Linked DNA regions of Homo sapiens: region 1 is linked to region 2. The links come from fine-mapping of genetic effects on gene expression. A gene starts in region 2. The other region holds a variant in brackets. All regions are shown on one strand. Distances are from middle to middle.

The links. PIP is the estimated chance that this variant, and not a neighbour inherited with it, causes the effect.
Region 1: its variant is the best candidate, but not a certain one, in a credible set for the expression of DPP10-AS3 in CD4 T cells (CEDAR, PIP 0.67).

The regions. Positions count from the first base shown.
Region 1 is chr2:114,128,403-114,133,952 of GRCh38, reverse strand. No RefSeq gene overlaps it. Among named protein-coding and RNA genes, the nearest start is that of LINC02992, 150 kb to the right of the region's middle. The variant T/C (reference allele first, on the strand shown) is at 2,593.
Region 2 is chr2:114,831,373-114,836,372 of GRCh38, reverse strand. DPP10-AS3 (DPP10 antisense RNA 3) reads left to right here and starts at 2,825. Exons shown (of 2, transcript NR_132105.1): 1 at 2,825-3,048. The region is part of intron 1 of DPP10 (dipeptidyl peptidase like 10); the gene reads right to left.

The DNA.
Region 1 (5,550 bases), 700 kb after region 2:
AACAATTCAGATTGCCCCAAGAGCTTAAATTTTAAACCATAAATAGCCAAATAATACATTTTCTTTTTAACCACATCTGGAAATCTCCACAAGCTGACAAACATGAAATTAACTATAACTTTATTTTTCATAGCGTCATTTACATTGTGAGCAAATATTAGAAAAATAAGGATGAATGCTAAATTAAAATGCTCTTCTCCATATACTATTATTCTATAAGATGAAATCACAAACATCCCTTCTTCTGTAAAATGAGAGGGAACATGTTCCTGGTGGAAAGTGTTTAGGCTTTGGAATAAAAGACTGTTAAACAGAACTCATTTCAGATTTTAACTTTGGTTCTGACCCTCGGAAAATCACTTAACCTCTTTGTCCGGATTTCCTCACCTACAAAATGGGGTTGTAATTCTTATCTTGTAGGGTTATTATGAAGACCCCAATAGTCCAAGTATGGTGTCAGCCCCAGCTATACCCTGTATCTCTTCGCTTCCTTTCTCTGTCCAGACTGGTTGTGAACTGACCTAAGCCCATGTGTAAGTTGTTTGTTAAACACAGGGAGCCTCCAGTGATTAGCAATAGATCTGCTCCTGCAGATGTATTGCCACCAGATGCTTTGCTATAATTTTTATAAGTTTCAGATAGAATTCTGCCACTCGTACAAATACGGCAAACACAAGATCAGTCCCACCACTTGTTTTGATAAGTCTAAGGTGCCCCAGCTTCTCTCCTAACACAAACCATCAAGCCCCTGGAATGAAAAGTGAAACTCCCAGGCCAGCTCAACAATGCTCCGAAAGCAGTATCTGCTAGTCCTTTTGTCAGATCAGGTAACAGATTTAGGGGAGGAAGAGGGCACAAGACCAAGCTGAATCCAGACCTGAAACACCATGGCACAGGTATGCAAAGGGATAAGACCTAAATTTGCAGTTCCTACTACAACCACTACCACTACCAAGATTTGTAAGACCCTAACCTAAGTGTTTCTTGCTAAACCCAAAATCACAAAATGCGCTCTCCCGGACTCCCTTAAATGCCCAATTTTCTTGCTAACCTTGAACCCACAGAGTGTAATTTCCCAAATTTTCTTATTTGTAGACAATCAACTTCTAAGAACTGAGAATTTACCTTGCCCCATACATCACATTCTTGTTGTCTTCTTTTTTTTTTTTCCTGATTAACTTTTGAGCCTATAATGTATAAAGCCTCTGCTACCTGCCTGAAAACAGGGCAGTTTCCCTTTCAGACACCCCCTGCTATCAGGGAGTAAAGCCTTGCTTTTTTTCCTTCCATTTAGGTGGTCTTTTAATTCAGGACTCTGACAAGAGATGTGTTACAGGGTTTGGCTGATTCTTTTTTTTTTTTTTTTTTTTTTAAGTTCTGGGATACATGTGTAGAATGCACAGGTTTTTTACATAGGTATACACGTGCCATTGTGGTTTGCTGCACCTATCAACCCATCATCTAGGTTTTAAGCCCCACATGCATTAGGTATTTGTCCTAATGCTCTCCCTTTCCTTATCCCCCACACCCAACGGGCCCCGGTGTACGATGTTCCCCTCCCTGTGTCCATGTGTTCTCATTGTTCAACTCCCACTTATGAGTGAGAACATGTGGTGTTTGGTTTTCTGTTCCTGTGTTAGTTTGCTGAGAATGATGGTTTCCAGCTTCATCCGTGTCCCTGCGAAAGACATGAACTCATCCTTTTTTGTGGCTGCATAGTATTCCATGGTGTATATGTGCCACATTTTCTTTATCCAGTCTATCACTGATGTGCGTTTGGGTTGGTTCCAAGTCTTTGCAATAAACATACGTGTGCATATGTCTTTACAGTACAATGATTTATAATGCTTTGGATATATACCCAGTAATGGGATTGCTGGGTCAAATGGTATTTCTGGTTCTAGATCCTTGAGGAATTGCCACACTGTCTTCCACAATTGTTGAACTAATTTACACTCCTACCAACAGTGTAAAAGCGTTCCTATTTCTCCACATTCTCTCCAGTATCTGTTGTTTCCTGACTTTTTAATAATCGCCATTCTGATTGGCGTGAGATAGTATCTCATTGTGGTTTTGGTTTGCATTTCTCTAATGACCAGTGATGATGAGCTTTTTTTCATATGTTTGTTGGCTGCATAAATGTCTTCTTGGGTTTGGCTGATTCTTATAGTTACTGTCTAATCTCATTCCTGGAACACAAATCATTTCCCCAGTGAAAAATTACTTCTGGCCCTCCCCAGGCAAATGAAACTCTCTGGGGAAGGTAGAAAAACAATATTTTGAAGCATGTGCAGGAGTCAACTTTGGAGAGTGAGTTTCCAATAAGATTTCTTCAGGTGTTAACTAACAGCATAGATGGCACACTGTTCATACTCTATACTTCAAAGTATGTATCAAATAATATAACAGCATTGTCAAGCTTTTCTAACCATATCTCATTTTGTGACTTCGATTTTTTTATAATTTGTCTGACGCATAGAAGTGTAGCATGGCAAAGAATAGGAGATCGTATGTACTCATACAGACAAGTTTGAATAAAAGCAGTAGATGTTTTTAAAAAGAAAAATAATAGCACAAGCCAACTAAATCTAT[T/C]AGGTGTATTCTCACTTCAGTAAAAAGGACAAAGGGATTAGTGTCTTTATGAAAAAGCAAAAACAGAAAGAAAAAAAAAAGAAAAGACTACAGAGTCCCACATTCTGGGACACTCCAGGAGGAAAACACAGCCCCTGCCCTCAGGGAGTGCCCAGACCAGTGTTGATGGAATCCCAGGTGATGCTTTGGTCAGCGCGACAGCCATCTTTGTAATATCACTAACATGTGGTCATCCAGTTGTGACTGAATATATTATAGGGACTGGAACCTTCTCTGGTACCCATTTCCTCAAGGACAAGTTAATGGATCAGCAAATTTAGAGTTTTGAGTGTTTTTAAAAACATTAATATCTAGTACATACATAAAATATTACCTTTGCTGGAGAGTGTACTTGCATTTTTAGAGTGGATTTTTGTCTTTAGACCAAGCCATCATAATTGTAATGTCAGAGACAGTGGCAGACCAATCAGAAGGCTATTTCTTGATTGGGGTAGAAAAGAGACCTTTCTGTGCCCTTCCAATCAGACACCATAATTGGTTGTCTTTCCCATATAAAGGATTGGTCCTGCTCCCAAAAGATGAGTAATTGTGAAGAATAAAACACTTTTCTTATAAGAAGTCACAAAAATAACCATCTCTGCTATCACATCATTTCCCTTCCTTCATTCCACTATAATTTATGAAAATGATTTAAAACTTTGGACCTCAGTGAATACTGCGAAATCCGGTCTGCAATTAGTTTTGTATGTTTAAGATCTCCCTCATCAGAGCAAATCATAATTCTTTGGAAGTAAAGCCCTGAAAAAGATATGAATTTGCAAGTTTTCATTTTTAGAGAAATTGACTTATAAGAGAAACGGCCTTTAATATGATTTTCTAAGTAGAAAACTCCCTAAAATAAACTTTGGGGAAATTGGCACAAATTCACGTTCTCAACACTTATGGTCCACTTGTATTACTGTGAGGTGCCAGGGACTGTGCTGGACGCTTTCACACGCTTTAGGCCATCAGTCCTCGGGTACCAACTTGGTGTAATCTAATCTGCAACGTTGAGAATAAAGCAAAGTTCAGGTCTGTGAGATAATTCTTAAGAAGTGACTTCAAGTCATGATCTTTCTACCATTCTTGCTTATACCTCTTTTTGTCTAGCACGATGCTTGCCATTTGATGGTAACAGCTGATGCTTACGGAACTGAGCAAACACCATCTTCTCCAGCCCTTCAGAAGGTCGATTGGAAGCCAGTATGTGCCCTCCCACAACATTCTGTCTTGGTGATGGATGATATGGGAGATGATTAAACATTCTCAAACTTGGAGTCTTTAATACATTAGTAGCAATCTCTTTAAATAAATCACATGTAAGCAATAAATTAAGGATGTCATTCAAAAATCACAAAGGAAGTCAAAATCTATTTATGGAACTCATCAGAGCTGTGATTTATTCTTGTTATCAGAAATGTAATACTAGATTGTATTTCAAACCTGCTTCTTGAATAACTATTTTGTTTTGTTTTGATGATAGCTGTGTCTTAATGAACATAACAACATTTGGTGAGAAAACAGCTAAATCTGCTTGCAGTACATAGATTTTATGCTGTATTGCCATATTGTCTTCCACAGTCACATCTATAAGGCCAAATAAAAATAAAAAAAAAACAGCTTGGGAGACAAAAGACCACCAACGATTTCCTGAGTTAGTGTAATAGACTATGGGCATATTCCTTGGTTTACAGACCAAATTGAATAACATCTAAATAAGATTATTTGCTTTCATAGAAAAAAATACTGTTTTTCTGCCCAGAATTTCAAGCTGTTTTAATAAAAGAGATTTAGAAAGCCCCAGATTAGCAGTGACTTCTGATATCTTTTAGAGAGTTGTAGTTAAAAAAATAGAATTTCTGCTCACCTAGAACAGAAAAGCAGACACAGGTAAGTTATTTTGTAAACTCTCCCAATGTCCTGTCAGTACAGTGCCTTTGAGAAGATTTCTCTGGGCAGTCTTAGAGTGGCATTTCCTTATTTCTCATTATTTGCTTTATTTGTTTTTCTACATATGTTTTTGAGAGGCTACTGTGTTTCAGGTGCTGAGAACACCACAGAGACTCAAATCAGATGAGGTCCCCTCCCATCAGGGAATTTACATTTTAGTGAGAGAGAGAATCATAAGCAAATATCACAGTCCAACATGTCAAACTGCCTCAAAGGTGAGGTATGGCAGACCCATCACTGGGGAATGGATCTAAACAAGGAGGCAAGGAGGCACCTTGAGAGGAAGTGGTCATTTACTCTGGAAGTGTAGAAACCGAATATGTGATGAGTGATCCAGGCAGAAGTAATTACAGTTGCGGATTCTCTGTCTCTGGAAGGAGCGTGGTGACCACAAGGGACAAAAGGAGGATAAGCTCGTAGCTGAGACACAACTCAGGAGGAAGAACATGGTGCAAATGAGGTGGAAAGGGGACAAGAACCTGGCTCAGCAGGACTTGAACATGAGCTTAAGAGTTTTGTCTGTATCTCACAATGGGAAGCCATGAAAGGGTTTCACGCAGAGAGGTGTTATGATCAGCCTGGGTTTTTTAAAGATGAGTGCAAGGAGGAGAACAGATTGGAAGGGGGCCAAAGCGTCTGTTAGCAGATCAGTGGAGGGCTCACACTCCAAGCAGAAGATGACAATGGCTTAGACTAGGGGGTGGCAATAGTGGGGAGATAGAAGATTTGAGAGAATTTCTCCTATTCTATTTTTGTTTTTGGCCCAACCTGCACCCTCTATTCTAAATAGCTGCTCTTTTATCTACATTGATTTTCTTGCCTGCTTACTGCTCCCATCTGCAGTACCAGCTTTTAGTGCTATGCTTTATAATAAGGACTCATTGTACGTTTGCGTTATGAATGAGTAGTTCCCACTTTTATTATGCTCTTCCCTGCACCATAAATCTCCTGCAGTTTAATCTGTCCTAG
Region 2 (5,000 bases):
GTACTCTGTCCCTTTATTTCCCAAACTGGCCAATGCTTAGGGAAAACAGAAAAGAACCTACATGAAATATCGAGGGTGAATTTTGCCCGATATCTGGCTGAATTTCCCCTGATAAATAACTAAAACAGAATACACATGGGTCACAAATGGAGCAGCACACATAAAGTGCTATGAAAGGCAGAGAAGGAAGAAATTATTTTTAGGTGGGAATTCAGGAAAATCTTTATTGAGAAAGGGGTATTTTAGGTGGCCTTGCATGGAATTGCCAGAGAGTTAAGGAGAAAGTTAGGGGTGGGGTGAAAGAGCACCAGGTAAGAGCAAAGAATCATATCCAATACTCTCCAATAACATCCACAGGTGACTTGTTTCATTTCTCTTCCTAGTTTAAATGTGGGAAGAGGATAAAGGGCAAAAGAAGATAAGGCTATTATTACTCACTCAATCTAAAATTTTGTCTCAATTATCTGATTTCATAGTGAAATAATTTCTACTTATATGCTGAATTGTACAGCTGAGCACTAATTATATATAGTCTTTTTTCCCTTTCTGAGAAGATTAGAAACACAATAATAAGGGTCATACTTTATTCTCTTAAAGTTCAATAACTTACTGGGCACATGACAGGTATTTGGATTTGTCTGACTGACAGTATTTTACAAATGGTTCTGGAGTTTACTATTATCCCATGCTCTTAGTGACCAGGAAACAAGATCTTGACCTCCACTGAGAACATGTCTCAATCCTGCCAAGACTGATTGGATTAAATGGATTTATGGAAAAAGTGATCAGCCTTCCACTAGAAAAGCCAGCTAGTACTGGCAGGAACTAAGCAAAGGAATAATAAAACAAACACGTATTTATTTTTGACTAATATTATTTGATTAAAAACGAACGTGATAGAAAATCGCTGTGGGTATATGTCTTATATATACATAGGTGTGTAGATATGTCTTATATATACATAGGTGTGTAAATATGGCTTATATATAAATAGGTGTGTAGATATGTCTTATATATACATAGGTGTGTAGATATGGCTTATATATACATAGGTGTGTAGATATGTCTTATATATACATAGGTGTGTAGATATGGCCTATATATATACATAGGTGTGTAGATATGTCCTATATACACATAGGTGTGTAGATATGTCCTATATATACATAGGTATGTAGATATGTCCTATATATACATAGGTGTGTAGATATGGCTTATATATACATAGGTGTGTAGATATGTCTTATATATACATAGGTGTGTAGATATGGCTTATATATACATAGGTGTGTAGATATGGCTTATATATACATAGGTGTGTAGATATGGCTGATATGTACATAGGTGTGTAGATATGTCTTTTATATACATAGGTGTGTAGATATGTCTTTTATATACATAGGTGTGTAGATATGGCTTATATATACATAGGTGTGTAGATATGGCTTATATATACATAGGTGTGTAGATATGGCTTATATATACATAGTTGTGTAGATATGTCTTTTATATACATAGGTGTGTAGACATGGCTTATATATACATAGGTGTGTAGACATGGCTTATATATACATAGGTGTGTAGACATGGCTTATATATACATAGGTGCGTAGACATGGCTTATATATACATAGGTGCGTAGACATGGCTTATATATACATAGGTGTGTAGATATGTCTTATATATACATAGGTGTGTAGATATGGCCTATATATATACATAGGTGTGTAGATATGGCTTATATATACATAGGTGCTTAGATATGGCTTATATATACATAGGTGCGTAGATATGGCTTATATATACATAGGTGCGTAGATATGGCTTATATATACATAGGTGCGTAGATATGTCTTATATATACATAGGTGCGTAGATATGGCTTATATATACATAGGTGTGTAGATATGGCTGATATGTACATAGGTGTGTAGATATGGCTTATATATACATAGGTGTGTAGATATGGCTTATATATACATAGGTGTGTAGATATGTCTTTTATATACATAGGTGTGTAGACATGTCTTTTATATACATAGGTGTGTAGACATGGCTTATATATACATAGGTGTGTAGACATGGCTTATATATACATAGGTGTGTAGATATGTCTTATATATACATAGGTGTGTAGATATGGCCTATATATATACATAGGTGTGTAGATATGGCTTATATATACATAGGTGTGTAGATATGGCTTATATATACATAGGTGCGTAGATATGGCTTATATATACATAGGTGCGTAGATATGGCTTATATATACATAGGTGCGTAGATATGGCTTATATATACATAGGTGTGTAGATATGGCTTATATATACATAGGTGTGTGTATATGTTTATATACGTATACATGTACATATACACCTATATATCTCTTAGCAACAGTTCTGCAAAACTCAATCATTATACTTTGGCAGATTGGTTTTAGGTCACTAGTAAGGGCAGAAGCACCACCATGTGTCATCCAAATTCTTGCCTGTGCCTTCCGTAGGACAAAAAGAGGGTTTATGATTTTGACCATATCAATTCTTGTCTTTCTGTTGCCCTGACTATAGGTATAGTTTATTGTATTCTTATCACGTGCCAGGCTTTGGGCTAAACGTGTTCTATGCAGCATCTTTATGTCATCCTGACAGTAGCACAATGACGTATGTAATAGTGGTCACATTGGCTGATGTGAAAACTGAGGCTTAGAGGCATCAGCTGGCAGTATTAAGAGGCAGACTTGGAGGTGCCTGACTCTGAAGAACACACTGCAATCAAAATTCAGTGCCCAAAATTATGATGTCACAGAATATTCCCTGTTAGCACTATACGTTCCACCTGTATGTTTGGAAGAGAAAGAACTATGCTCACTCCTTCTGAGCTGTCCCTATTTATTTATTTATTTTTGGTCTGATGGCTAAATAAAGATTTTTTGTATTCAAGAGAAATAATTTAATGAGATAAAATATTATTTCCTAAGAAAAATATATCAGCTGAAACCTGGGAAACATCTAGATAATTTAATTGAAAATGATTGACATTCTCAAACAAGTGAGTACATTTTTTTGCTTGATCAATTTAGTTTTTTTTTTTAAAGAATTAACTCATATTGGCTGTATAATCACAACTCTTACATCATAAATTATTTCTTCCACAGAATTGAAATCTAGTTTCTTTCAAGGGACTTCATATTATGCAGCCAATGTGATATTATTACAAAATATATGAAAATTATGCCAAATGAAAATGCCATAGATAAATACAGTTAAATGAGTAGAATGCCAAGATTTTAATCCACAAGTCTAAAAAAATTTCTTTTTTAGTTTCACAACTTTGAATTTGTGAATTTTAGCTATTTTAATCAGAATCAGAATATCGTATTTCTCAAAATTATAAATCACTGCTTGTCTCTGTATACACACAGATGCATGCATACATATTTAGTTACATTTTTTGAAATGGCAATTATTCTTATTCAAAGCATAAGCATTTAAAGTACTTAAATTTTTTTTTTTAGAAAATAGAAACATGTTAGGTAGACTTGACTCATGTCCCCATTTTTGGCATGAGGTCTATAGACATAGCATTGCAGAACTCCTTTATATTACTATCTGTTTATCCCTTCATCTATTCAGAAATGCATTCAAATATAACTTTGATTTCAAATATTTGTTTGGGCTATTAGATATCTCTGTAAATAGGAAAAATAATATTTGCCCATTTACTCTAAGTTACATTTGAAGGCTCTTACTATTTTATGGAATATTTTACAGCAATCCAAAATGGTCATACTAAGTTAAAGGTAATTTGTTTATTTATTCATTTATTTATTTATTTATTTTGAGACGGAGTCTCGCTCTGTCGCCAGGCTGGAGTGGAGTGGTGCGATCTCGGCTCACTGCAACCTCGAACTCTTGGATTCAAGCATTTCTCCTGCCTCAGCCTCCTGAGTAGCTGGGACTACAGGAACCCACCAACACGCCCGGCTAATTTTTTTGTAGTTTTTAGTAGAGGCGGTGTTTCACCGTGTTAGCCAGGATGGTCTCGATCTCCTGACCTCCTGATCCACCTGCCTCGGCCTCCAAAAGTGCTGGGATTACAGGCGTGAGCCACCACCCCCGGCCAGGGCCAGATCACACTTGTTTTTAATCTCAACAAGATCTAAGAAAACTATAGTCTATTTAAGAACATACTTTTATGTGATTTAATTTTAATTTTGAAATAAAAAGTTATTTCAAGATATTTTATGAAGAGCATTGAGTATTTCATAACTTAGGACTAAGGTAGTGTTGGAAGGTGAAAACACGTGGAAAATAATTAGTCAAAAACAAATTTAAGCAAAGATGTCACTCATTTAAATGTGTGCAAACATTGTTCTTAATTAAAATATTGGGAAGATAGGAATATATTAAGCACATATTTAAAAAAAGAGAGAGAAGAGAGGTTTGGACAGAGAGCATCAACCTCTTACTTTTTGCCTTGGTTATATATATACATATATATTATATATATATATATTTTTTTTAATTAAAGAGAGAGAAAGAGAAGAGCAAACCTTATATAGACACATAACCAGTCTTTTTTAGTCTTTCTTTTGATAAACCATTTGAAGTATGAATGTGGTACTGTATTTCAGTTAAATTGTACTCTGCAACTTAATCTCCAATTGCATTAAATAGAATTTTGATCTCTTCTTTTGATGAGGTTAAGATTTTGCAAACTACGTGCAGAATATCTGTTTATATGTTATGTCTTTATTGCTCGTGCTTTCTGCAAACCCAGCTTTCCCAAATGATCTTCCATGCTGAAACACCTCAGACTGAGTTTTGGCTAGGGACACTCAATGCCTGTAATTAAAACTGGGATCACTCTTCTTTGCCATAAAAGACAAACCTGCTTCCCGAAAATTGGATCACAGTTATTTGCTTTCCAAAGCCTACATTTCTGAGTTGGTCCTAAGTTATGAAACACCCAAGGCTAATTTTCAGTTTGGGGGTTCTGTT